Linked DNA regions of Homo sapiens. The protein of the gene in region 2 purifies or fractionates together with the protein of the main gene of each other region. This does not show direct contact. Each region holds a gene or a part of one and is shown on either strand. Other genes may lie near its edges.

Region 1 (3,500 bases), on a different chromosome or scaffold from region 2:
TTCACCATTCCCAGGCGGGGCGGCCACTGTTCCCACACATTCACACGCCGGGTGACCACTGTTCATACGCATTCACACGTGGGGCAGCCATCATTCCCACACATTCACACGCTGGGCGGCCACCATTCACCATTCACCATTCACACACAGTATATCCTACTATTCACACTCGGGGCATGGGGATGCGGGGTGCCTCCCGGGGACTCACCGGCGCTTCTGTCTCTGTACAGAATCAGTATATCCCACAATTCACATGCAGGGCTGGGGTGGGCACGGGCAGGGGGCCCAGGCGGGCTCCTGGGGACTCGCCGGCTGTTCTGGGCTGACAGCTCTCCCACCCCTCCTGGGTGACACCTGACCCCAGCGGCATCATCTGCCACCCCACTCCTGAGACCACATGGAGTCAGAATCAGGCCCTTGGGCAGGACCACAGCCCTGGCAGGATGCCGGGTCCCCTGTCAGCACCCAAGTCCTGGTGCATGCCTTTTGTATGGTTCCCCTCCCCGCTTGCCGACACCCCTCCACACCGCTTCTTGCCTGAGGATCTGAAGGAAATTGGCACTGAGATCCACCTATACGTGTAGGCACCCCAGGAGGAAGCAGGTGTCACCCGGCCTCCGAGGGCTGGCTGAGCCTCTGTGCCCCTCCCTCCGCAGGACAAAATCCCCATGGCCCAGCGCCGCCGCTTCACGCGGGTGGAGATGGCCCGTGTGCTCATGGAGCGGAACCAGTACAAGGAGCGGCTGATGGAGCTGCAGGAGGCTGTGCGGTGGACTGAGATGATCAGGTGGGAGTTGCGGCCACCCCAGGAGGGGCTGCGGGATCATCCCTGACGGCAGGACTGCGGCTCCCTCCTCTGCACCTCCCTGTCTTCTGGGGGGACTGAAGTGCGCTGGGTGCTTCCTGGCGGGAGCCAGAGAGTCGCAGGTAAGGGAGGCGTGAGGGCACTAGCAGGTTGCTCCCTGTGCCCTCCCCTGCAGAGCGTCCCGAGAGCACCCATCCGTCCAGGAGAAGAAGAAGTCGACCATCTGGCAGTTGTAAGCTGGGGGCCCCTGGGGGATGTGGGCAGCAGCTGCAGGGGAAGGGGCAGGGAGGTTCCCTGGTCCTCTGCCCACCCCTCACCTCCCTGTGCCTCTGGCAGCTTCAGCCGCCTCTTCAGCTCTTCCTCCAGCCCCCCTCCGGCCAAGCGCCCCTATCCCTCGGTGAACATCCACTACAAGTCACCCACCACTGCCGGCTTCAGCCAGCGCCGCAACCATGCCATGTGCCCGATCTCGGCAGGCAGCCGGCCCCTGGAATTCTTCCCTGACGAGTGAGTGTCCCGCAGCCCCCACTTGTGGCCTGCAATGGGGTTGGGGAGGCCCTGTCCTGAGGCTCCTCCCCTCCAGGCCCTGAAGCGGGACTTTGAGGGCAGCCTCCACCTTGCTGGCCACATGCCAGGGGCCGTGACCTCTCCCTGCACACTGCCTGCCCCTCCCTGCAGCGGGGAGCTGGGCTGCTTTGGCTCCACGGTATTTGGTTCAGGATGTCCCTTGGCAGAGGCTGTGCCCACCAACAGTCAGGGGGCTGTGCTGGGCTCCACGGTGGCCTCTGCAGCAAGGAGCCGTTTCAGGCGTCTGTCCAGCAGGGAGTCGCTGGTCATGCCTGTGCCCCGGCGGCACTCCAGGTCCCGGTCTGTGGAACCCTCAGTGACTGTGGCAGCAGAGCAGCCTCTGGGTCGAGCAGGGGCCAGCTGTGGCCTCCAAGCCCAGGGGCATAGCCGGTGCCAGGAAAGCCACCCTTCCCAGCTGGGCACCCAGTGCCGGGAAAGCCACCCTTCCCAGCTGGGCACCCGGTGGCCGGGAAAAGGCGAGGATGGGCCCAGGCGGGCCTCCCTGCCGTGACCTCCCCCAGGACAAGCCTGGGGCACTGTGGGGGCCGCTCACCCTGGACAGAGACATCACCCATCATTCTTCCACTCAGCGACTGCACGTCCTCCGCCCGTCGAGAGCAGAAGCGCGAGCAGTACCGCCAGGTGCGTGAGCACGTGCGTAACGACGACGGCCGTCTGCAGGCCTGCGGCTGGAGCCTGCCCGCCAAGTACAAGCAGGTGCGGGCGGGCGCTGCGGGGACCGGGCGGGGCCCCGCAGAGGCGGGGCGGGGGTAAGGGGCGGGGCGCTGTGGGGCGGGGAGAGGGCGGGGCAGTGCTAGGGGGTGGGAGAGGACGGCGGGTGGGGCGGGGCCTGGCAGGTTCCTAGTGAGCCTCCTGGGCAGGGGTCTGGAGGGTCGGAGAAGGAGCCCCGCGGCTCCCACGCCCCCACCTGCCTCCAGTCTTGAAGTGGCTGTGCCGCCAGAAGCTGGCAGCCCTACCTGTCTCAGATTTCTGGAGGGATGGGTAGGAGCCAGGGTTCGTGCCCACGGCGCCTCCCTGCTCCCTGCAGCTGAGTCCCAACGGGGGCCAGGAGGACACGCGGATGAAGAACGTGCCGGTGCCGGTGTACTGCCGCCCTCTGGTGGAGAAGGACCCCACCATGAAGGTGAGCCCGCGAGGACCCCGCTCAGGCTGGCTGGGCGAGCGGGAGGCTGGGGAGTGCCGGTGACACCCGACCTCGGCCCTGCCCTTGCAGCTGTGGTGTGCCGCGGGCGTCAACCTGAGCGGGTGGAGGCCCAATGAGGACGACGCTGGGAATGGAGTCAAGCCAGCGCCAGGCCGCGATCCCCTGACCTGCGACCGCGAAGGAGACGGCGAGCCCAAGAGCGCCCACACGTCTCCCGAGAAGAAGAAGGTGAGCATGGCCGAGGCCACCGGGCACCCTCCCTGGCTTAGTCTCAGGACAGCTCAGCTGCAGAGCATGCTGGGAGTGAGACACAGGACAGCTGGGGACAGCACCCGGAAGCAGGGCAGCGCAGGGGCTCCTAGACTGCGGGAAGCAGTGTCTTCCCTCACCAGGACTGAGCCGCCTTCTGGGTTTTCAGTTTTCACCCCCCAGGTGGCCTGGAGTGGGCCTGCACTGGGCTGCAGGGGTCAGGCAGGCAGCAGGCACAGAGGAGCCCAGGAGCGGCAGAGCTTGCCTCCCAGTGGTGGGAGGCTTAGTTTTATGCCCAGCTTGGGCCTCTTGGAGCTCAGGGGCCTCTTCTGTGGAGGCGAAACCGTGTCTGTGAGTGCTTTAGAGTGCAGTCCTGAGTCCGCATTGTTCTGGTCCTGGGGGAGGACAGCCATGTCCCCTCAAGCTGTAGTCAAGGCTGGATCCTGACAGATTCTGGGAGCCCCATGGCCCTGTGCTGCCACCGGGTAGCCTCAAGCTCGGGCTCTGACCTTGATCCCGTGCCCTGAAACAGGCCAAGGAGCTCCCTGAAATGGACGCCACCTCCAGCCGGGTGTGGATCCTGACCAGCACCCTGACCACCAGCAAGGTGGTGATCATCGACGCCAACCAGCCGGGCACGGTGGTGGACCAGTTCACCGTCTGCAACGCGCACGTGCTGTGCATCTCCAGCATCCCCGGTGAGCAGCTGGAGTG
Region 2 (2,977 bases):
CCAGGGCAGAGAGTTTCTGTGAGTCCCACTGAGAAAATCCCATGGGGTGGGGGTATCCTGGTCGGTCGGCAATGGAGGGTGGCTGGCTTGGTGGTTATTGTCTTCAAGGAGCTCTTCGCTGCTGCATCTGCGGTGTCCCTTTGTTCTTGTCCCATTTCACCCCCTCTGCAGACACCAATGTCCGAGGGCCACCCAGGACAGGACGGGGGTCAGCCCCAAGCTGAGAGTCTGGTCATAGGAGTCATGTCCAGAGGCCTAGGGAGGTTTTAGGGCCCTCCCCACCCACACCCACAGGTCGATTTGGTCTCTTTTTAGCTCAAGGAAAGACAGTAGCCAAGCAACAGAGCCCCTCTCCCGCCGTGGCCCGTGGGAGCAGTTACATCGGGTCTGGTGCTCCAGACCTAGGGCCCAGCACTTTCATCAGATCCTGCCTCCTGGAGTGGGGGAAACGCAGCACCCCACTGGTTCTGAGGCCCCTACCCTCCCAGGCTGTCCCACGTGATGCTGACATGAGCCTCAGAGACCCCAATCCCATGCCTGGGGGAGAGACAGCGGCTCAGGAGTGGGGGAGCACGGGCCTTCTACACCACATGGGAAGGCTCTGGCATGAGGTTTTCCTTTGGGAAGGTTGTTTGGGCCCCTGAAGTTCCATCTCCGAGAGTGGTGTGCAGGGCAGGCCAGGGCCCATGCTGGCTGCAGTCTCTGTGGCTGCCTGCCTGGGCCAGCCTGTTTGGGAGCTGGGACTGTGGGCTCGCCTTTTCGTACCTGGGCTCAGGTGCGGTGTGGCCACCGCCACCCTCATCCCCTGCCTGGGAGGCTCTCCCAGGGGCTGATGGGGGGGTTCTGTGAGGGAGAATCAGGGCTCGGGAAGCCACGCCTGGGAAGGCAGGACACAGGACACAGCAGCTTTCTTTGGAAATCTCCCAGGTGAGGATTCACATCCCAAAATAAAATTCAGAAGCCAGGTGGCCTGTGCTCCCCATGGGTGACCTCTGGAGGCAGTGGACCAAGATGCAGCAAGGAGAGGATGCAGAACAGCTTCTTGCAGAAGCACCTGCTCCGGCATCCAGCGCTGCCTGGAGGCAGGAAGGAGAGGCAGGGCAGGACACGCTGGTCTGAGATGAGGGGGAGCCCCACGGGCCCCAGGCAGGCTAGAGGAGGCACAGGCCCTGCCACGGCCAACTCAGGTCAGCCAGCCTGAGGCTGTGGCCTCCAAAGGGTCTGGGCGCACCCCCCAGGTCGCAGGTGTCTGAGGCCAGCCAACCTGCAGAGCACTCGCGGCGTGGGTGGGCTGAGTGGAGGTGCCTGGGAGCTGCCTAAATTCAGAAGCCTCCACTGCCATGGAGACTGCCTGGCTGTGTCCTCTCAGCCAGGTGCCGTGTTGGCCTTGGCTAGGACCCAGAGCCACACTGCAGCCTCCGCCGACTCCCTCCTTCCGGGCCTGCTCTAGTGAGGAGTGCCTAAGCCAGGACCCAGAAACTCAGAGTTGATGGTGAGAGGAGGCCGCCTGAGTCAGGACACCTGGCTTCTTGAAAAGTTCGCTCTGCCAGAAACCACCTAGGGACCACGTTAGCTGCCTTCCTTGAGCTCCCCAGGAGTCGGTTTCCACATCTGTGAGGTGGAGGGCTGGTGTGGAGGTGCTCATGGGGTGCGGTGCTTGGGAGACAGCCAGGCCCAGGGTGGCTGCTGCTTCCTGCTAAGTGGGGGAGGTGAGACAGATCTGGAAAGCCGTCTCCCTCAGATGGTTTCATTTAATGCTTTATACTGCCGAGTCTGGGGGCTTGTTTTGGTTTGGGGGCAGCCATCCTCCACCAGAAAGGGGGAGCTCCTTCCGCTGCGGCTCCAGATAGATGGGGATGCCGGGCTCCAGGCCGACCAGCACTTGGGATCTGATGGGACACGGCCAGTGCCTAGGGGTGCCAAGTCCAAGGCCTCCCACTGGGAGTCATCGCTGAGAAGATGCCAATGTTTCATCCACCGGCTGCACAGGCACAAACTCCCCCACCCAGGACGGCTGTGATGAGGTGGCCCTCCCTGTCAACCCTGGTCCCTGGAGTCCCCAGCACCTGGGGCCCTGGTGGGGCTGATGTCACAGGTGTTTACTGTGCTGCTGCACTGGTCCTATGCCAGCCTCACCCATGTGGGGACCACGGAAGGCACACTCCCTTACCCCCGGTGCCGGGCCGTGCGGTCCCCCAGACGGACAGCAGCTGTGGCGACCTGCGTTTCTCCCTGGGCCTGTGCTTCCTGTAGTTAGTCCGTCCCCTGGTTCCCCTGTGGCTCAGAGGCCGCGTCCCTGGCTTGTACATATGTGATTGCTGTGGGCACACCCCAGACCCCATGTCATAGCTGCCGTCCCGACGTCACGACGCCTGTCCCGATGTCTTACACCCGAGTGTTAGCCCTAGGCTCCTGTACTGTGCGTGCACTTGAGGCTCTGTCCAATTAAGAAATAAATGTGGCTCTTACTCAACACAGTCCCATGGGCTCTGCTGTGGCTTTATTTGCGTGTTACGTGTGTTGCAGGGCCCCGGAAAATGGCTGTAGGTGCATGCATCCAGCGTGGTCCAGAGACAGTACCCCTCTCCCAGTGATGAGGCAGGGAGGGGCTGGCTCTCGAGGTGGGCATGGGGAGGTGGTGGGGAAGGTGTCGAAGACTGAGTGTACACAGGGTGCTGGTCTTGGAGGATCAACCTCCACCTGCCTCCCGTGACCGGTTGCACCCCTGTGAACCAGCCCCAGGCACCTCCCCAGGGACACAGCACCTACCACCCTCATACCAGGCCACTGCACCCATCCCAGGCAGCCTCAGGCCTGGACCCTTCAGAGTCTCTAGTCCATGGGGTCTGCGCCTGGGCCCAGATCCTCAGAGCCTCCTGGAGTTCCAGAGGCCGCACCATTGCACACGAGGGCCTTAGTCTTGTCCAAGGTATGGCAGGAGTTTGTGGACCAGCGTCACACTGATGGCCGATGGGAG

Evidence for each region. Proteins that work in one complex are often made in the same cells at the same time.
Region 1: the proteins of KIF1A (region 2) and MAPK8IP3 fractionate together in Homo sapiens (co-fractionation; one large-scale study listed by BioGRID). This does not show direct contact.

What each region holds. Positions count from the first base shown.
Region 1 is NC_000016.10:1,761,695-1,765,194, forward strand, and holds part of MAPK8IP3 (C-Jun-amino-terminal kinase-interacting protein 3), read left to right. Parts: intron 1-656; coding exon 657-787; intron 788-980; coding exon 981-1,037; intron 1,038-1,141; coding exon 1,142-1,312; intron 1,313-1,962; coding exon 1,963-2,089; intron 2,090-2,420; coding exon 2,421-2,516; intron 2,517-2,606; coding exon 2,607-2,765; intron 2,766-3,318; coding exon 3,319-3,484; intron 3,485-3,500.
Region 2 is NC_000002.12:240,713,267-240,716,243, reverse strand, and holds the end of KIF1A (kinesin-like protein KIF1A), read left to right. Parts: 3' UTR 1-2,477; downstream 2,478-2,977.